3 linked regions of the Homo sapiens genome follow. The protein of the gene in region 1 purifies or fractionates together with the protein of each later gene. This does not show direct contact. Each region holds a gene or a part of one and is shown in the gene's direction. Other genes may lie near its edges.

Region 1 (7,083 bases):
AAAATTTATAAAGTAGTTCAGAAAAGAAATTTAGCATTCCTAATTCTTTCTGTAGACCAGATGCCATTTGAGCTTAGATGAATAAACTTTACCAACTCATCTTCTACATGATAATATGCACTGCCATAGCTTCACTGGCAATGCTCTTCTTTAGTTGTACATCTGGATGGAAATACACCAAAATGTTAACAGTGGTGTCTCTGAATGGACGGACAGTAGAATTATGGGTGATTTTCTTTTAATCAAGAAATAAAATATAACAGATTAAATGGTGTTCACATAACACAAATTATACTATTTATTAATGAAGGATATCAGAATCCAAATTTGATAGTGAGTTTCATCACAAAATCCATAACATATTTAAAAGTCTATTAAGTATGAAGAACATAACAAACATAATATGCGTTATGTTTGTAATAGCTCTCAAAGCTAAAAAACAAATACTACTCATTTTGCTAATAATACAGCAAGTCTTCTGTCCAGTCTGCATGCCAAATTTGCTGCACTGTGACGATATTAAAGAGTTAAGTCAGAGTTACAAAATCTTGAAATACAGAATTAAGACCAAAGGAAAAAAATCCCCCTTAGTCCCATAGCACTCGAGCCTATCAGCTGCTAGTTAAAATAGATTAAGCATAGATTTCATATTTTTCTTTATGAAACAGATTCTGACTACTGGTAGGTTTTTTTTTTTTTCAACCAAACACCAAAACTTCCAGTTGAGATGGCTTCCTTTTTTTTTAAAAATAAAAATATTGAGCATGTTGATATAATATGCAAAAAACTCCAAACTTGGCAGTAATCTTAACATATCTCCTCAATATCATACAACTTGACAGCAATGATCATTTATCAGTCTTTGATAGAGTTCTTGAGATTGAGTTCAAACTTTAATATATTAAGGTGAAAGAGCCATTTGACTCAAAAGCTAATATAAAAAGAGATTCCTACTTAAGCTCTGAAGAAGCAATGAAAGGGGAAGGGAAGCTAGTTATTCAGTCTAGTTGGAATTTTACTCAGTAGTGCCAACTGCATCTAGTGGAGGGATTAGAAAAAAGCAAAGGAGATAACATAGTAGTGGGATGTTATTCTGGGCACCAAAAGCACATGTAACTGCATACTGGCAACAGTGAGACAAGCTAACAAAGGGGACAGAAGATGTACTTGACAGGATTATAGAGAGTTAGCAGATGAGTAGGAGGAGATGGCATATGAGACGTAGGCTGGGGAGAAGTAGGAAAGAGCCTTGATGGTAAAGACGAATAGTTTAAATATAATACAAAATACAATAATGGCCCAGTGAAGCAAGCTGAGAAGCCCAAGATAATGTCTACAGTACAGCATTTCAAGCTGTCTAAGGAGTAGCTATTTAGACAAAAAATCTGAAAGGGGGAAGTTATGAAAGCGACAAGAGAAAACATTCAAAATTTGGTCCAAGCGTTTTTGTTTTTGTTTTTGTTTTTAAGAATTGAAAAGATAAAGCGAGACCAGGCGCAAGCGGCTCATGTCTATAGTCCCAGCACTTTGGGAGGCCAAGGCGGGTGGATCTCTTGAGGCTAGGAGTTCAAGACCAGCCTGGCCAACATGGTGAAACCCTGTCTCTACTAAAAATACAAAAAGTAGCCAGAGGTGGTGGTGCGTGCCTGTAATCCCAGCTGCTCCGGAGGCTAAGGCAGGAGAATCGCCTGAACCCGGGAGGCAGAGGCCGCAGAGAGCCTAGATTGTGCCACTGCACTCCAGCCTGGGCAACAGAGTGAGACTCCATCTCAAAAAATAAAAATATAATGAAAATGGCAGCTGGTAAGAATTTCTTGGAAATTTGCCAGTTACCTAAGTATTTAAGAAGACACAGTAAAAAGAAAATTTTAAAAATAGCAAAATAAATAATAAAGACAACTATTCAAAAGATCCTGAAAGCTTCAAACACAAAGAATAATGTACTACACAGTGACAGGAATGAAACATTTAATATTTTAAAACAATTTTCCAAACTACAAATAAATTTCTTAGACTTCTTTTTTATTAAATGCAATTCTGGTGTATTTATATAGCTAATTCTTATTTTTTCTGAAATGAGTTATATTCTAATTAAATAAATTTTACTAAAAAAATCCGAATTCAGCTGTTCACTAACCCTTAATAATTTTTAACATAAATGTAGACACAAATGTGCAATGAATTTATGTATTCATTATGGACTACACTTTTAAATCCATTCCTTGCTCAGTGGTTTTCGAATGCTTATTAAATATCATTGACCTTATGCTGAGGAAAAGCTGTCATTCTAGGAAATTCACCACTTCTACCACTAGGTGGAGAAAAAACACAAGTAGTATCTGTAATCAAAGCTAGTACAAGGCCCCAGGTACTTTACCTAGAATTTCCACCAGGTGTCAACCAAGAGGTAGGGAAAAGATAAGACTGTTTTTCCCACTTAAATATGCAAATTTATAATTTTATGCATAGCGATCTAAACTCTGAAATAAATGGCCTGCTCATTAATTGTCTAGTTTGCATATTTATACTCTTTATATATTGCTGTTGAGTCCAAGATATTGCCTTGTCAACTAAAATCCAACCCCCAAAAGCTTAGTTTCTTTTGAAATAAAACAGCAAGACCAATAAGTTTAGTTTATTGTGACTCATAGGCTCAACCTATCCATATACACTACGCAAAAGAATCTAAAACGTTTAGACACGGACAGCCAAAAATCTTCCAAGGTATTTTTGGTCATACATATATATATAGAGAGAGCACCAGATTCATATTTTTTCTTTCTACATTTCTCTTGTAAGGCAGTTCTGTTGATTGCCAGTAATCTAGATGAGTTTATGCTGTTATGCTCTGAATCCCAGTGTGATGTGACGAAAGCACTGCTATTTTTTACCAAACATTCACAATAAAAAGAGAAATGTACCTATATTTAAGATGTATCATGAGAATTACTACGTTAAATGGTCCAAGGCTCTCGGCCGAAAATTAAAGCTTCACACAGTTAAATCCCTATTTATATACCAAATCATGCTTTTTAAAAACAATTTTATGCGCTTCACTAATTTCTAACAAAGATTTTCCGATTCTGTTGCAAACAATATGTCAGCTAAACCACTATGTCATATGCCTTTTATAAGGTAGTACTTTTTTAGGCCGAACTCTATTCTTATTCCTCTGGACACAGGAGTTGTAATCATGTCTTACTCTGCAAATCTAGCCGTAGGTGGTGTCTTAAAAGGACTTTTTCTTCCTTCGAGGAAGTGATCAAGCTTCCCCCAGCCCCCACCCGTGTCATCCTGGAAACAACTTGGTTGTTTTTCGGTGCTAATTAAGCAATGTAGGAGAAAGAAGTTGAGGAGACAGCAAAGCCTATTGATTACATTGTACTTGCTTCTCTACCTCGCTCTTCAAAGGATTAAGGTTCCTTTGACCTCGACTGAGTTCATTTCCAACCTGCCTACAAAGTACTGGTTTAAAAAAAAAAAATCCAAGCAAAGTATGCTCTTGTCTATGAACAATATTTCTTGTCCGGTTTTATTACGTTTTCTTTGGAAATTCGTTAGATTATGCTCAACAATCGGCCGCTTGCCCAACCGGTTTCTCCCTTCCCCCATCTCTCTTCACACATCACTTTTTCCTCCTCCCATCCAGGCAGTTGGTAAAACGCTGCAGTGCCGGTAACGCACGCTTCGGGCTGGTCGCTGCAGTTTATCCTAACTTGGCTTTGCAAACTCCCCACCCAGCCCTTGTACCCTCGCACCCCACTCTGCCATTATCTTTCTAGTAGAGTGCGCTCGGTAACGGGCTCCAGATAGCACGTCGAGGGTATACGGTAGCCTGCCTACCAATAGGAGCCCACAATGAAGAGAAGTCAGGTTCAGCCGGCCAGCAGCTCCAGTATCTCCTTCCCCTAGCTCTACACCTACTGTACCCGGGAGCGAGCGGGCAAGGGAGCGAGCGCGGCGCGGCGCGGCGCGGGAGGGGGCGCGCAGGGAGGGCGGACAGCAGCCGCGGCCTGCGCCTGCGCACTGGGGTTGTTTTTCACAAAGCTGCTCTTAAAGTGAGCTGGCAGCTTTTAGCCGCCCGTCTTTGTAAGGAGACCACTGAGACGAGCGGGAGCGCGGAGCAGCAGCCTCTGCTGCCCTGACTTTTTAAGAAATCTCAATGAACTATTTGTAGAGAATCACTGATCCGGCCTGCAAGCATTTTGCACGGCAAAAATATCGATCAGTGTTAAGTGAAGATCACATTTTATATGCGATCTTGACTTTTTTGTCTTACATTATATTTTTATAGATTTTGTTATAAACATGGTGCTGGGAAAGGTGAAGAGTTTGACAATAAGCTTTGACTGTCTTAATGACAGCAATGTCCCTGTGTATTCTAGTGGGGATACCGTCTCAGGAAGGGTAAATTTAGAAGTTACTGGGGAAATCAGAGTAAAATCTCTTAAAATTCATGCAAGAGGACATGCGAAAGTACGCTGGACTGAATCTAGAAACGCCGGCTCCAATACTGCCTATACACAGAATTACACTGAAGAAGTAGAGTATTTCAACCATAAAGACATCTTAATTGGGCACGAAAGAGGTAAGTTTTTGTTATTCATAAGTCATTGGACTCATTTTCTTTGGAAACGTACCTTTTCAGTTTTCTGAATTAACGTGATTCTACTCCTAGCATAACTAAGCAGTTTGAGAAAGGTTAGCAAAGTTGGAAGGTTTGGATTCTCCTTGACGTTCATCGTGTGTTAAGCCGTAATGCATGCAGGCATCTGCAAAGTGACTGCAAACTACACTTATTCAGCTACCTCTGTACCCGGCTCGGTCTGTGCCACACGCACTTGTAGTCCATTTGCACCTTACTTATAAATTCTGTTTGAATCCAATTCAGTCGTTTTACTAATATATTTTCAAATGAATTGGTAAAAGCTGCAGTCTTAGATTTTTGCCCTTTTACTTGCAACCTAAGATGTAAAAACTGAACTTCGATCAAGAAATGTAATAACATTTTTAAGAGACTTAATGGGTGTGTTTCATTTTTAATATTGGAATGCAAAAGACTTTAAATAATTGATGACTGTTCTTTCATAAAAGATTTCTGTGGCTTATTTTGACATATGGTATCAACACCCCACGTGTTTTTTCTCTATTCTTTACCATTCCTTTAAAAATTTACACCCAGCATTCCTTATTTTAAAGGAATGACTATCTGTCATTATGATAGGTATCGAGTCAGGTTTAGAAGCCATTTAGGATCAGTAATTTTCTTTTCCGAGCATCATGTCTAACTTTGGAACGTGCATTCAATGAAACCCATGCCAGTCAAATGGAATTGAAAAGTATAGGGCACACTGGATTTGATTTTTGGTTAGAAGAGAGAGATAAAGGGTTGTCAAAAGGAGAAGGAGTCCTGAGATTTCCAATCTATTGTTTAAATGGTTACATTGTGGAAATATAGGAGACTCTAGGCTTGTTTTTCTAAGTTTCCACCCTTTGTTAGAAGCGGTTCAATCCTGTTTCGGACCAGTTCTGGGGGGTGGTGAGGAGGGGCGCTTGTTCTGCTCTCAGCAGATTGGTTACACGCGTCAGGTGGTGGCGATGACTTAATTCCTAGCCCAAGAAGAATATAATGTTAAAACTGGTTATGTAATTTTTGTGCCTCTCCTTTTTAATGCAGTATTTAGTTCAGATGTTGGCGATTTTTCAGAAAAAAAATTAGAGACATATTTTACCTTATTTTTTATATTAAAAACGTACATCCTGGAGAAGTGCTGATGACTAAGGCAAGTGAGAAATGAAGGATGCTTTGAGGGACAGTATTAATGCATTATTTTTGAAACTATTAAGGTGAACTCAGTTCTTTAGCAGGATTTTCGTAGTTAGATACAGGTACTTTGCATCCTGAAATAACTAATTAATCTCTCCAAGTGTTAACACTGATAGGAGATGCAAATGCCTAATGACAGCCTTGGTATTTGTTGAAAAGCAGATAGATGACTTTGTGTTTGTACCTTTCTGAATATTGCAGCCTTTTATGAAACGGATGAAAGAAAACAGATTTTTCCTCAAGGGGTTAAGACTTGCAGTGGGGAAAAGTAGAACAACGAGATGTGAGGACAAATATAATTTCATTAGTTGCACCATGATTTCGTGGTAAAGAAAACTAAATGCCCTGCACCCCCAACAAAATGCCCCCCAAACCCTGCAACGCGTAGACGAGCTCAGTCTGGAATAGTTTCAATGACTTGAAACTGGGAGCTCTCAAACTAGCCTGGTAACTGAGACCCCGCCCCGGGCGCCCGGGATAGGCGGAGCCAGGTTTGTTAGCCTGTTGCTAAGGCGATGGCAGGCGCTGATTGGATTGGGCGCGGGCGGGTGGGGAGAGTGAGCTCGCGCCGCGGCTGGGGCGAGGCTAGGAAACCGGCGTGCGCCGGTAAAGGTTCCTCCAGAGCGACCCCCACCCAGCCCGTACTCACGTTTGTTCCCGGGCTTCTGGGGGCGCCCAGCCCGTGTCAACATCATGTTCTGTCGCCCCTCTTTTGGGCCTCCTAAGGGCCATCGAAAGGAAACGACTTCAGGCTTTAACTGAGTAGAGGGCAGACGCTCCTGCCGGCCTTACAGGTGCTGGATGGCCATGGACCCAACTTTAGCAGAAAATCCTTTTCAGATGGAAGTTGGATGGGAAGGGTTGGCAGGACCCCCGTTAGCTATCTTCCGAGTGGGAGGTGTCAGGGGACTCCTGTGAACGCTTGTTTTCCCCTTAGCTGAAACAAAGCTTGTTCCCCGACCTCTCCAGTCGCCACACTGTCTACCTTGAGTTGACCTGAGGGGACAGAGCAAAGGCTGGCCCGAGGAAGAAGGAAAGTGATTCCAATATCGAAATGTTGGGGGAGGGGGGGGCTTCGACGGGTATCCTCTGCCCCCTCCCCCATCGTTTTCCGAAGCCTTCGGGCCCCCGCCTCCCCTTCGCCACCCCAATATCCCTTGCCGAAACTAAAGGTGTCAGAGTGGCCCGAGCCAGATGGAACCGGTCGCCGGCTGGGGCGTGTAAAGCGGAAGCGCCGCGGCTCGCTCGCCCCGCCC
Region 2 (7,026 bases), on another chromosome or scaffold:
TTTGATATTTTGTTGTAGCATACATTTAGTACAAATTAAAGGAATTTCTCTCTCTGCGGGCTTTGGCAAATGTTTTATGAATTTCTAGAGTTTTGTTAATTAGATGAGCCATTCAAGGAGTCATCATCCTGAGTGAAGCCAGATTGTGTTGATGGTATTTTAGACTTCCTCACAGCTACAGTATGCTACCAGTCATCTTAGTGCACCATATCAGTGAAATCAAGCAAAGGGTTTTCTCATTTGAACTACGGAAAGTCAAAGAATGAACAAATAGACACTTCTTATCTAGTGAGCAAAGCTTGAGCTCTCCCTCCATTTCTTGGAGATCTGAGGCATGTTTTACATAACTAGTGTGAAAATCTTTCTGGGCTGGCATAGGAGTTACACAGTTAATTAGATCATACCCTAAATATTTAATGACAACAATATGTTCTAACAATATTGTAGAAATATTTAATTGGAGAGAGGTATATCAGGGGATCTAAAACCGATTGCAGAAAAGATATAGTTATCTGAGACTTGCCAACACAGCAAGGCATTTCTCCTGGGCAGTTCCTATGGTTTTAGATATTGAATATTGCTTGTATTCTTACACTTGGTTTAAGAAACTACTAATGATCTCATCATGGTAAAAAAAAAAAAAAAAAACAAACAAAAAACAAAAAAAACTCTTAAGGGCATGCCACTTAGTCTAATGCATTTCAAAGCCTAGAAGAAATAAAAATATATCTCAATATGATTCTAGAAAGCACATAATAGATATGATAATGAAACAAGCAGTAACTATTTTCCTAACATTTTAAATTTGCAAAGTTTTTGACCATGTCACCAGTGCAAGCCTGAAAGGGAGGCACGAAGGATGAGATTATTATGTCTTCATTTTGGTGATTAAGAAATTGAAGCTTAAAGTGTTTATGGGACTAGCTATTCAGAGACAGAAGTGGGGATTAAACTCGGCTTTTTTATTCTAAGCAAGTACTTTTTTCCATTAAGCAGACTGCCAAATTGCTTGGCCCTTTGGAAAACCTTAATTGTTATGACTAGATAAACCTAGAGGCACCTAAGTGAAAAGTTGGCTAACACTATTCACATCACTATAGTTGCATGGATACTGTCAGGGAAGCAGTGAAATAATTTAGGTTAGATTCCTGGCACCATCATTTACTTATCCTGAGATTCTCATCTTCAAAAAGAAAGTTACATCGTTGTAAAGATAAAGTGAAGATAATATATGTAAAAGTCTCTGTGAGTAAAGCTCTTCATATTTATTTTATATCCTTATTAATGTCCGATCCAAATTTCCCCAGTGGCATTCTTAAAATGAAAACAACAAAAGCTATCTTAACCTCATACTTTTATTTTTCTGTCCCAGAAGAAATGACCCTGTATGCCTTTTAAACTTAAGGAAAAATTCCATTTAAACATTCTTTTAACATTTATCAGGGAAACCACAGTATTCTGCAGATGTTCCTATTTTAACCACTAAGTGGAGGAGTATTTTCAACTATGTTTTGCAACTTCAGAATTTCATGAGATTAGGAATTCAAATTGTCAATCAAATATACTAGTTAATTCTAATCCATTCTATAACAAGATATTAAATATCAAAGAATTGAGATACAATAAATGTAGGGAGTACTAAAATTGCATTGTGCATAACTTAATATTTGATAACATCTCCTAAAACTGTGAAACTAGGAAGGGCTGCATGATTGACTGAGAGGGCTTCTTTTGTCATACAGATCCTTGACTGCTGCTTTTTAATCATGGTGAATGCTAATCATTCTGAGTGAATAAAGGATTGACAATAGCTGCAGCTATTTCTAGCTATGTGGAACTCTGTATGTTGTTAGAATTTAAGAGATACCATTTCCTATACAAATAAAATGATATAGTATCATATTTGTCTTTCTTTTAAACCAGCATGTTATCTGTTTGTGTTTTCAGAAATATTCCTTTTTTGCACTTCTTACTGATGTCTTAGAAATTGAAATTAAAGACAAATTTGCCAAGAGCCGTCCCATCATCAAGCGTTTTCTGGGGAAACTAACCATTCCAGTCCAGAGGCTGCTGGAGCGACAAGCCATCGGGTAATCAGCCCTTACCTTTGGGGATCTTGTTGAGATTAGTTCATATAGGAAAAAATGACATGAAACTTGGTAGTCCTAGGACTTTTCATACTGATAAGAAGTAGTAACACAATTCTTTTAAAAATAAAAGTGTCCTTACACTTATTAAAATGTACTTGACAAAAAAGTAGTTTATTTTAATTATATATGTTTTTTGCGTCTTTATCTTTTCCAAGATGTACCCACTGTTAATATTTCAGTGTCAAATCTCATAGTGTTTGATTGTCTCTCAGTATATTGGAGCTTTTTATAAAAACTTCTCCCTGGGGCAGAATTCTTGGATCAGGTTGATGCCTACCTTATCCTAAATAATTCCATCCAGAGAACTTGTTACTCTTGAAAAACGGAAACAATCTTGTCTTGGAGCCATTTAAAACGAGACCTAGACTTGAAGAAGTGTTATAATAAAGCTCCTAGACATATACATTCATTCAAGCAACTAAAATTTATTCATTGACATTCTCTTAAAATTTAATGTGTAATTAATGTCTATTTTCTTTTTGTGAGCTTTTTGTAAGTTGTGAGTAAAGTAGTAAGTCATACTGAGGAGATAGAGAAGACCAAAAACAAGTTATGCAAATTAATAATGCATAGCTGACTAGAGGCTCTAAACTGTACAGTGGAGCAAAGAGTAGATAGAAGAAACATTGTATCTTCCTTCTGAAATAGCCATTAGAGGGCAGAGGTGGAGTGATTTGGCACTATCCTTTTGATGATTTTCCTTAATTAAGAATAAGTTGGCCGGGCACGGCAGCTCATTCCTGTAATCCCAGCACTTTGAGCGGACGAGGTGGGCAGATCACCCGAGGTCAGGAGTTCGAGACCAGCCTGGCCAACATAGTGAAACCCTGTCTCTACTAAAAATACAAAAAAATTAGCTGAGTGTGGTGGCGGGCACCTATAATCCCAGCTACTTGGGAGGCTGAAGCTGGGAGAATTGCTTGAACCCGGGAGGTGGAGGTTGCAGTGAGCCAACATTGCACCACTACACTCCAACCTAGGCAACCCGGGCAACAGAGCGAGACTCTGTCTCAAAAAAAAAAAAAAGAGAGAAAAAGAATAAGTCATTTAATTCAGAATAAGATTGTTACTTGTGTGCAGGAAAATGAAATGACTGCATTTGACTTTGATAAAGAAACAGACTTGAAACAGATGGAAAACTCCATCCTTCAGGAGGCAGACAGTCCAAGCCCGGGGCCCAGGCAAGGCAAAAACTAAACCTGCTTCCAGATCTGGGATATGACCCCACCACAGGGGCACATCTGGCTTTGCCAACCATCCCATCAGCACTGCTTACAAGGCACCCTGAGAATCAGTGATAGGCCAGGCTTCCCAGCAGGGAAGGCCAGCAGCTCCAGCCTCCTTACTCTACAGGTGAGGAAGGAGAGCTTAGCGGTCCTCTCCCCATCACACAGCCAGGGCTGCTGTCTTGGCTATGAAGGGCGCTTTCATTCTTGTGTTCTTGTGCTTCTCTCCCCTAAGTCCCAGCTCCTGTTCTTCAGGGCATAGCACAGTGCCCTACGTGCCATGTTGGGTGATAATCCTTAGCTGTGAGTGTCCTTTTAGAACCAGCTTTCTGTTGTGCTAAATGCCGAGGAACCAGGCTCTCTCCCCTTTTACACCCGAGTCAAAAAACCCCTAAAACTTGAGGCCTTTCACAACTCCTTTATGACCTTCAAAATGTCCTTTTCCTGGTCACCCTTAAAAGTGAGAGAGTGAATCAGTGTCCTTAAAAATATCACATAGCATATGATGTCTTGTGCTCGTAATAATAATTTTTCTTATGGCAACATTTCCTTTTATCTCCGGGTTTATAAGTGTTCCATTTGTATGAATGAATAATATTACATTGGACTATAATGGGCTTTGAGCCTTTAATGTTCTTGTGAGTCTGAAAGTTTTAAGAGAGATAGGAGGGATTTGGTGGGTGGCCTGTGGAAAGACGGCGAAGGCTGACTCCAGCGTAGTCAGGATGAAAGAAGCATTTCTCTTCTTGCAGTGATCAAATGCTCAGCTACAACCTTGGCAGAAGGCTCCCAGCTGACCACGTGAGTGGGTACCTCCAGTTTAAAGTGGAGGTTACGTCTTCTGTTCATGAAGGTGAGATATAAATATATCTGTATGAATACATTGCTATAGGAAAAACTTGTTAAACCTAACTCGATTGTCAGTTTGCTTCTGAACAGAATTGAATTCATGTTCTGTTTTGAAAGTAAAATAGCTGTCAAATAATTACCTGCTGAAATTTTCTAAGCAAGTAGGAAAGGCTGTTTGCCCAAAAATGTCTCTTAGATTGATGCCTGCATTTTGAAACTGGGCTGTAGAGTTTTCAGCCATGCTAACATACATAGCTCCTGTGCCAAGCTGACTAGCAGTCTCCTCATTTAGTAGTGAGTGGTGAATCTTAGCAAGTCAGTAGAAAGCCCTCAGAATGACTGATTTCTTTGAACTTATTGGTGGCAAAGCAAATAAGTCATAAAACGTTCACTTATTATTTCTGGTTAATTTTTTAGAAATGCTGTTTTCTCATTCAGATGCCTCTCCAGAAGCTGTTGGCACAATACTTGGAGTCAATTCTGTGAATGGAGACTTAGGTAGCCCTTCCGATGACGAGGACATGCCAGGGAGCCATCACGACAGCCAGGTGTGCTCTAATGGGCCAGTTTCTGAGGACAGTGCTGCCGATGGAACCCCCAAGCATTCATTCAGGACTAGCTCCACTCTGGAAATAGACACAGAGGAATTAACCTCTACGTCTTCAAGGACCTCACCTCCCAGAGGACGTCAGGATTCACTCAATGATTACTTAGATGCTATCGAACACAATGGCCACTCCAGGCCGGGGACAGCGACCTGCTCTGAGAGGTCCATGGGTGCCTCTCCGAAACTGAGGAGTAGTTTTCCCACTGACACAAGACTCAATGCCATGCTTCATATTGATTCAGATGAAGAAGATCACGAGTTCCAGCAAGACCTGGGTTACCCATCTTCCTTGGAGGAGGAGGGAGGCCTGATCATGTTTAGCAGGGCATCCAGAGCTGATGATGGAAGCCTGACATCTCAGACAAAGCTGGAGGACAACCCTGTTGAGAATGAGGAAGCCTCCACACACGAAGCTGCTTCCTTTGAGGATAAGCCAGAAAATCTTCCAGAGCTTGCAGAGAGCTCCTTACCTGCAGGCCCAGCCCCAGAGGAAGGTGAAGGCGGCCCAGAGCCTCAACCCAGTGCTGACCAGGGCAGTGCTGAACTGTGTGGCTCTCAAGAGGTAGATCAGCCCACAAGTGGCGCAGACACAGGGACTTCCGATGCATCAGGAGGAAGCCGAAGAGCCGTCAGTGAGACCGAGTCTCTCGATCAGGGCTCTGAGCCTTCCCAGGTGTCCTCTGAAACAGAACCCAGTGATCCTGCCAGGACAGAGAGTGTGAGCGAAGCCAGCACCAGGCCTGAGGGAGAGAGTGACCTGGAATGCGCTGACAGCTCCTGCAATGAGAGTGTGACCACGCAGCTGTCCTCTGTGGACACACGGTGCTCCTCTCTTGAGAGCGCACGGTTTCCTGAAACCCCAGCCTTTTCTTCTCAGGAGGAGGAAGACGGAGCCTGTGCAGCAGAGCCCACCAGCAGTGGCCCTGCCGAAGGGTCGCAGGAATCCGTGTGCACTGCTGGTTCTTTACCTGTGGTACAGGTGCCCAGTGGGGAGGATGAAGGGCCAGGGGCAGAATCGGCCACTGTACCTGACCAGGAGGAGCTGGGGGAGGTCTGGCAGCGGAGGGGGAGCCTGGAGGGAGCTGCAGCTGCTGCCGAGAGCCCACCGCAAGAAGAAGGCAGTGCTGGGGAGGCCCAAGGCACCTGTGAAGGGGCAACTGCCCAGGAGGAGGGCGCTACTGGAGGTAGGATATGGACACCACTGTGGCTCTTGGCTCGAGCGTAGCTGTGCAGAGAGAAGTTCTGTAGTTTTCCCCTCAATGTAAATAAGGCTGCAGGTTACATATGACCTGAATTCCTCACCTTGAGGTTCAGCAGGCAAGAAGAGAGGCAAGATTGAAAACAGGGCCAGGAAGAGAAGGAAACAGGTAACAAATGAGTGGGCAGCTGAAACCCTTCCTCTAGATTAGGCCTCCTGTTTCTGAGCGGGGAGACCTTGGGACTTAATCACATAGCTAGGAAGAAGGCAGCATGGTTTGCATCCAGATGGGCTTGAGTTCAAATTCAGTGCTCTTTTAAAAAATGGCTCTTCTGCTGCTGAAGTAACAGGCCTGTTAAACAGCAATCTTCAAACTTAAATAATGGGTCTCTATTGGAACCGGGGTTTGTAGATACACAACCAAACAGGCTGGCAGCTTCAACCTTAGTGTAATCTGCAAAGGTTATGAGAAACACCTAGCCACTCTTCCTTTCTAAAATTTCACAGTGGAAGATTAATGTATGCTATGCATCAAAGGTAGTGTTTTTGTCTTCTACAATTTAGGAATGTCAACTAAGTTAGGTGATGTCTTCTGACTTGGAGAATAAGCTGTTTTTGTATCCAAGGACACAAATTTACACCTGAAATTTGTATTACGCTCAGTGAATGCAGCTCTCTAGAATGATTCCTTTAATATGCCCTGTAAGGATGCATTAAAAATCAAAGAGCAATTTCATATGTCTGGCTGGCATAACTCAGAAATAGGAATGATTTTCTTTTTCTGTAATGTATTTTTCTACCTACATGATCCCCTTCTTTTCTTCCTCCTCCTTTTTTTTTTTAAATTTTGTTTCCTTCATTATATTGTAGCCACCATGTGACCCTAAAGCATTAGCGCATGACCAGGACAGAGGCCGTTATGGGTGAGGGATGAGGCAGGGGAAGCTGCAGGAGCGGGGGATACATGCAGAGGACATTTCTTCAGGAAGCCCTCTT
Region 3 (7,026 bases), on another chromosome or scaffold:
ACCACAGGCCTAGCAGCAAGGAAACTCAGCTGAGAACAGGGGCCTCCTCCACCTTGTGCCCTTCTCCACTTGGAGTCTTCATGGCTAGAGGGGTCCAGGTGCACCTCTGAGGTTCTCCCTCCACTGCTTTCCTGGGTGGCTCCGAGGTGTGGTTAAATTGGGGGTGGGCACCCATGTCCCAGATGAAGACCCTGAGACCTCAAGAACTGGTAATACCCCTGGCGAGGGTCCCTCCCTGCTGTAGCCTGGGGTGGTCTGCGAGTCCCTTAGAGATGAGGCTTCCTCTCTCCCCATCTCTGGCCTTTGGAGAAAAATGAAGCCTCCAACAGTGACAGAAGGTGGCAGTGATGTAGAAAAAAATTTGGCCTAGGAATGGGAGTCCCGGGTTGTGATGCAAGCTGCTCTCCAGACCATTCCCTCTCCCCCTGTGTCTGTGCAGGGAGAGGGTGGACGAGGCGTGCTGGGGTTCCCTTGGCTCCAGTCTGCAAGAGCTGAGCTCCCACCAGGCACTTAGCAGCTGGTTATCCCTTCTGCTGCCGCCCCCGCCCCTTCCCCTCGCCCCCGCCGCCGGCCACCCGCCCGAAATAGAAAAGGAAAGGAAGTTATTTCCATAGTCAGCGGCAGCCCGGAAAAGCTCCCCTCCAGTGAGGGGGCGGGCGGGATTCCTAGAGCTGAAGACCAAATCAAAGCCAGGCCCGAGAGCTAGAGCAGCCCCCACCGCCCGGCCCTCGGCTGCCTTCTCAGTGTGCCGTTTTCCTGATTCAGCGGAACACGTGTCCTGCGGTTGCCACGCTGCAGGCTGCCATGGAGCTGTGGGGACCTCCTGGCCGGGCTCCGAGCTGCCCTCAGGCCCAGGGCGGTAGGGCGGGAGCCTGGGGGTCAGGGAGGGTGTGTGCCACCCCCTCTTCCTCTACTGCCTTGCCCAGCTGTTGGCTCTGCCATGGCACAGAGCTCCTGCCACACACACAACGGGCCTGGAAAGAGCGGCCCCAGAGCACCCTGAGAGCGAGATCCCTTCCACACTCACATCTCCACGCACGTTTTCAGAACATTGCTCAGGACACGGCCTCCTGAGGGGCTCCCCAGCACCTGGGCAGGGAGGCAGCAGTTTCTAGATAAGGAAACCGAGCCCTAGAGGGAACAGGGGCCCACCTAAGACTACCCTGCCGGCTGGTGGTTGAGCCAGAACTGGAGCTCAGATCTGCTTTACCCTCTGTAGGGATCCTGGCGTCCCCATATGCCCCTTCCTCAGCAAACCAGCATGCAGCAGGCTGTGCTGTTGGTGGCTTATGTGTCTGTTCCTTTGGACCATACCTGTCACTCAGCACCATGAGCCTGGCACTGTGTAGGTGCTAGGATAGAAGCATGAAAGGATGCGATCCCTGCTGTCTTTAGGGGACATTTGTAAACATCTATGGCTAAATCCACAGAGTTCCACATGTGCACCGTGGACAGACAGCTCTGTAGGTCCAGAGACCTGGAAGGGCACTGAGTGACTGGAGAGCATGAATGGCTGGGGAGTTCGCTGAGGCTGGTGGAGACATCTCCAGTGATGAGACAGAGTGACGGGCCTTTGTTCTGGAGGCAGTGGAGGCCATGGGAATCTCTGAGCAGGATCCGACCTGCCTGAGGACCTGGTGTGATGGGGCCAGGAGACCTGGGGTTGGGCTTAATGACTTCCTCTTCCCTGTCACCTGCCATCCCCTAGTATCGACGCGCTGGGCTCTGGAGCCCCTACAAGCCAGAGACGCTATCGGAACTGGAACCCACCACTGCTGGGCAACCTTCCGGATGACTTTCTCCGCATCCTGCCCCAGCAGCTGGACAGCATACAGGTAACAGGGGCCGCCCCCGCCTTCCACTCCCACCTGCTTGTCCAGCATCTCTCTTTGCCCACACAATTTGTGCCAGCCAGTTTTACTTCCTGATGTTTAAACCCAGGCTGAGCTATTTCTGTTGCCCTGGGTTCGTAGGGCAGGAATGCTGAACTGAAAGCCTCACTTCCTGCCTGGGCCTGGAGGTTTCCTGTTCTATCCAGGGAAGGTGACAGCCTAAGGAGGCTGTCTGCTGCAGCAGTCACCTCAGGCTGGAGAGAGGCGGGCATGGGGTGGCCAATGGTGGAGGGCCAGAGCACCCCCCTTCCTCCCTTGGGAAAGGGCCAGAGGCTGCTTCTTGCTAGATGTTGGCATGCCCCAAGGTGCCCCACAGCGGGGCAGGTCCACCCTGAGGCTGCTGGTGCAGGGAGAGGGTTGAGTTTGGGAATTGACGTATAGGCTGTTCCACAGTCTGCAGATTTGTTTTCAGGACTGTTCAGGTTGTAGATGAAGGTATGAGGTGGTCTGTGGCGTGGGGGAAAAATAGTTTTTAGGCTACTGCTGTGTCCCCTGCAGCAATGGCTCTGACCTGTCCGTTGGATTTTGGCTCGCAACCAGGTTCCATTAGGAGGTGTGAGCCTCAGGTGAGGGCTGGAGGATGTTGGACAGGGCATGTGTGCAACCAGAGGGATGTGGACGTTTGTGCAACATGTACCCTTGTGTGTACACATTCAACATGCTCGCTTCCCTCCTCAGGGTAACGCTGGGGGCCCCAAGCCTGGGAGTGGAGAGGGATGTCCACCTGCCATGGCTGGGCCAGGGCCCGGAGACCAGGAGAGCCGCTGGAAGCAGTACCTGGAGGACGAGAGGATCGCGCTTTTCCTGCAGAACGAGGAGTTCATGAAGGAGCTGCAACGGAACCGCGACTTCCTCCTCGCTCTGGAGAGAGGTGGGCAGCGCCTGCAGCCACTTCTCCCTGGCTGAAGAAGGGAGGTGATGCTGGCTTTAGCCTTGGGGCTCAGGAAAACACTGAGCTGGGGGCTGAGGGGGCCAGGTGCTTTCTGTCCTATTGAGGCATGACTCCCACCAAGTTATCCCATGGGAGCCTCAGAATTCTGCCTATGGGGACCTGGGTCACTAGCCCACCCCTTTCTCCCTCGGGACTCAGAGGAAGAAGGATGTGCACTCTTAGGCCTTCTTCCCTTTGCACACCTGCTCTGTGCCAGGCACTGGCCTTGGCACAAGGCAGCAGGGAGAAGAGCACTGCCCCTCCTCACAGAGCCCCAGCCCCAAGGCAGGCGTGATGTGTCTGGAGCTCCGGAAACAGAACGACTGGGTTCATGAAGGCCAGGGCGGGGGAGGCTCTTGAGTGGAAGACTTTAGAGCAGGGGCTCTGGAACTTTGCAGGTATTTGGGTTGTCTCTGGGTTGGAGACCCTGCTCCCTAGCCTGGCTGCCTTTCCCCTGCAGGGTGGGAGTGCGTTTGGGGTAGAGGAGACGAGAGGGCTGTGGAGCTCTGTCCCTGTGACGGCCACAGCGTGAGAGCTTGTGTGTGTAACTGATGGTGTGTTGGTGGGGGAGGAGCAAGTTGTGGAGGGAGAAGGCTGGGCTGAGGCCCAAGGTTAGCCCCAGCTCTGCAGCAAAGGTGCTAGAAGCCTCAAGGCTTTTCCGTTTATTTTTTATTTTTTGAGACATAGTCTCGCTCTTGTCACCCAGGCTGAAGTGCAGTGGCTCAATCTCGGCTCACTGCAACCTCCGCCTCCCAGGTTCAAGTGTTTCTCCTGCCTCAGTTTTTCAAGTAGCTGGGATTATAGGCGCACGCCACCGCACCTGGCTGATTTTTGTATTTTTAGTAGAGACGGGGTTTCACCATGTTGGCCAGGCTGGTCTCGAACTCCTGACCTCAGGTGATCTGCCTGCCTTAGCCTTCCAGTGTGCTGGAATTACAGGCATGAGCCACCATCCCTGGCCGTGCCTTTCTTTTTAAATGAGGGGGTTTGGACTCTACAGTCTCTCTGAGTCCTTTTAATTCTGACATTTGAGATGGCTGTCAGGCGGTAGTTTCTTTTACTGCTGGTTCTTTGAGAGCTGGTAGATGTGTGCACTCATATTTTGGGTGCCCGTGTGTGCTCATGTGTGATTCTGGGGACTTAGCCTCTAGCAAACTACCGTGTCCCAGCCCAGCCTGCCCCTGGGAGCCCAGGAGCTAACCTCCCTGACCTGTGAATGTGGTCCTTTTCCAGATCGATTGAAATACGAATCCCAGAAATCTAAATCCAGCAGCGTGGCTGTCGGAAACGACTTTGGCTTTTCCTCTCCTGTCCCAGGTAACTTTGCCTTCTGGGGAAGAAAACCTAGAGGCATAGTGGGGAGCTCACACCCAACTTTGCTTTGCATATTTGGAGTTTGAGAGGAGGGTGAAAAAACAGATTGTGGGAGGGGGCCTGGGCCTCCTCAGCAGGCTGGCGGGGCTGCTTCTGCCCCCATCTCCATATCCAGTCCATTTAGCAGCTCTGGGGTCTTTCCAATCCAGCCACTGCTGGGCTTCAGAGCCCACAGTTGTGTTCAAGTAACATAGGCTGGCTGAACTCTCAACCTATGCCTCGAGTGTAGGCTAGTCAATGACACATGGCCAGGTGCGGTGGCTCACGCCTATAATCCCAACACTTTGAGAGGCCGAGGAGAGTGGATTGCTTCAGCCCAAGAGTTCAAGACCAGCCTGGGCAACAAAATGAGACCCCCCTATCTCTACCAAAAAAGTACTAAAAATTAGCTGGGCATATTGGCCTGTGCTTCTAGTCCCAGCTACTCAGGAGGCTGAGGTGGGAGGATCACTTGAGCCCAGGAGGTTGAGGCTGCAGTGAGCTGTGATTATGCCACTGCACTCCAGCTTGAGTGACAGAGTGAGACCCTGTCTCCAAAAAAAAAAAAAAGAAGAAAAGGACCCCAAAATGCCCCGTGGTGGGGCTCAGAGACTCATAAGTCTTGGTCTGTGTCCTGGGGAAGCTTATGGTCTTGTAAGGAGAAATGCCCAGAAAACAGGTAGAACAAACTAGCAAAGCTGAGGACTTACTGATTTTAGCAAATGCATGGGAAAAAAGGAGGGCAGGATTAATCTGGGGAGTTTACTCATTCATTCATGACATAGCTGGAGAATATCTGCCATCTGTTGGGCCTTGCCCTAGGTGTTGGAGGAAGAGGAATTTCTAGCTTTGTGTACAAGGTGGTGGGAAGTAAGAATTGCCTGTAAAGAGGGCCAGGCCCTTCTGCTCAGAAGCTCTGATGGCTGAAAGAGGGTTGGATAGGGGTGAGGGGGCTGCAGTGCTCCTGGGATGCGCAGACTACTGGGTTGAGCCACAGCTGGGAACGATGACCTGGTGCCTGTGTGCGAACAGTGGCCCCTCATCAGTCAGTGCCCCCTGCCCCACATGTACACAAGCTGCCCACCTCGGAGAAGGGCTCTTGCCTGGAATAGACCTTGCATCATGCAGTGGAGTTGGGGGTGGAGGAGCAGAGGGATGGGGAGCTGAGCTGATCCCAGCTTGAAGGGAGAAAATCCTGTGGAACTGACTCATAAGCAGCAGGCTGGGAGCTTAGGGCTCAGCAGATGTGCAGCTGGGAGTTTTAAGCAGGAGCCTCTTGTCCTTGATCCTGAATTAACTAGAGATACCGGGGCTGCTGAGATGGATCAGAATGACTCAAAGGGGACTTAGCAGGCAAGGTGACTGGGGATTAACCAAGTTGCAGGACAGAGAGCAGGGGCTTCAGAAACCAGCAAAAAACCCAAGTGGATGCTGAGCGAGCCCGGGAGACTCTGGGTGGCCGGTGGGGTTCTGACTCCAGGACTAGTCCCATTCTATTCCTACTCATTGTCTAATAGCCAGAAACCCTGTGGCTGGGAGGGAGCAATGGATGGGCTTACCTGGCAGGAAGGACAAGGGACTTGCTACAGGTGAATGCCGGCTCTGAGCCAGCACCTCATTTGACTGTCACATGAATGTCGGGGTGCAGGAGGCCCCTGGTGTGCTGGTGAATGTTTCACAGCCAACTCTGGGTGCAGCGGGAGCCTGATATGTAGTGCTTGGTGACCTCCATGGTGGAAATACTCCCAAGCTACCAAGGTGATGTCATGAAACATGGAGTTGGTCAGAGGCGTGGACAGTTGGGAGCACACACGAGCTGGCTGTCTGCACACACAGTAGACCGCTGAACCCTCCCCATTTTTACAGAGGAGGAAACAAAGTCCACAAGGGGAAAGAGGAGCTCCTGGAACTCCACATCCTCCTTGCTTTAAACTCCCTTCTGGCCAGGGAAGAAGCCTGCTCTTTCTTTGCATTTGTCCTCAGATGGGTGGGTAGGGCTGGGACAGCGGCCATGGCTGGCCACGGTGGCCGGCCTTCAGCAGGTGTCTCCTTCCAGGAACTGGCGACGCCAACCCCGCTGTGTCTGAAGATGCCTTATTCAGGGACAAGCTGAAACACATGGGAAAGTGTGAGTCCCACTCAGGCCCCGCTTCCCTCCCCAGCTTTTCTGAGACAGGCCCTGTGGCCTCCCAGGAGTGAGGGAGCCCCTCAGCACATGTAATGCAGCTGACTCTTGGTGAACCAGTGACATTTTCATCGCAGGCTGGCTCCCTCAGCCTTCCTGCCTCACTTCCCTCTACAGCTGAGTCTAGATACAAATTAAGTTTTAAATCCTCTTGAGCCAGATGTCTGCAGAAAAATAACGTGCCACACATGCCCTCACCGCAATCCTCATGTTCACGTTCTCTGTGGCTCGAGGAGGCTTGGCCGGAGCTGACTGCACAGAGAGGCCCTTGCTAAGCCTCTGTGGGGGTGGGGGACCTCTTTCCACAAAGTCCTACCAGCCTTGAATGCCCCCTTCCCTCCCCCTCACCTCCCCGCCACACAGACCCACAGCCATGTGTGAATGAGGCTGCGATCCTTTCAGGCTCCATTTCAAGGAAAATCTCGGATTAGTCATGGAAATCCCAGAACCAACTTTGGAGGTGGCTAGGGGAGGGGCGGGAAGGCGGTGGCGGCGGGAAAGCGAGCCAAGATGCGTTGCAGTGTGTTGCAGCTGGGGAGGGAATACTTGGATCTTGAGCCGCCTGCGGTCCCTGGGCCTGGCTCAGGGTGTCCTGTGCTGCCCCTGCAGGCTGACCCAGGATGTAGCCTCTTGCTCCTGGGGTGGCGTCCTCAGGGGTCTGCGAT

What was found. Proteins that work in one complex are often made in the same cells at the same time.
Region 2: the proteins of ARRDC3 (region 1) and HECW2 purify together in Homo sapiens (co-immunoprecipitation; 3 studies listed by BioGRID and IntAct, with this or other methods). This does not show direct contact.
Region 3: the proteins of ARRDC3 (region 1) and CUEDC1 purify together in Homo sapiens (co-immunoprecipitation; 3 studies listed by BioGRID and IntAct, with this or other methods). This does not show direct contact.

The regions. Positions count from the first base shown.
Region 1 is NC_000005.10:91,380,318-91,387,400, reverse strand, and holds the start of ARRDC3 (arrestin domain-containing protein 3), read left to right. Parts: upstream 1-4,083; 5' UTR 4,084-4,308; coding exon 4,309-4,588; intron 4,589-6,476; exon of another isoform or gene 6,477-7,054; intron 7,055-7,083. UniProt on the Homo sapiens protein: Adapter protein that plays a role in regulating cell-surface expression of adrenergic receptors and probably also other G protein-coupled receptors.
Region 2 is NC_000002.12:196,317,542-196,324,567, reverse strand, and holds part of HECW2 (E3 ubiquitin-protein ligase HECW2), read left to right. Parts: intron 1-1,947; coding exon 1,948-2,090; intron 2,091-4,128; coding exon 4,129-4,229; intron 4,230-4,642; coding exon of another isoform or gene 4,643-4,663; coding exon 4,664-6,016; intron 6,017-7,026. UniProt on the Homo sapiens protein: E3 ubiquitin-protein ligase that mediates ubiquitination of TP73. Acts to stabilize TP73 and enhance activation of transcription by TP73. Involved in the regulation of mitotic metaphase/anaphase transition.
Region 3 is NC_000017.11:57,868,400-57,875,425, reverse strand, and holds part of CUEDC1 (CUE domain-containing protein 1), read left to right. Parts: intron 1-1,708; coding exon 1,709-1,835; intron 1,836-2,570; coding exon 2,571-2,763; intron 2,764-4,056; coding exon 4,057-4,140; intron 4,141-6,232; coding exon 6,233-6,304; intron 6,305-7,026.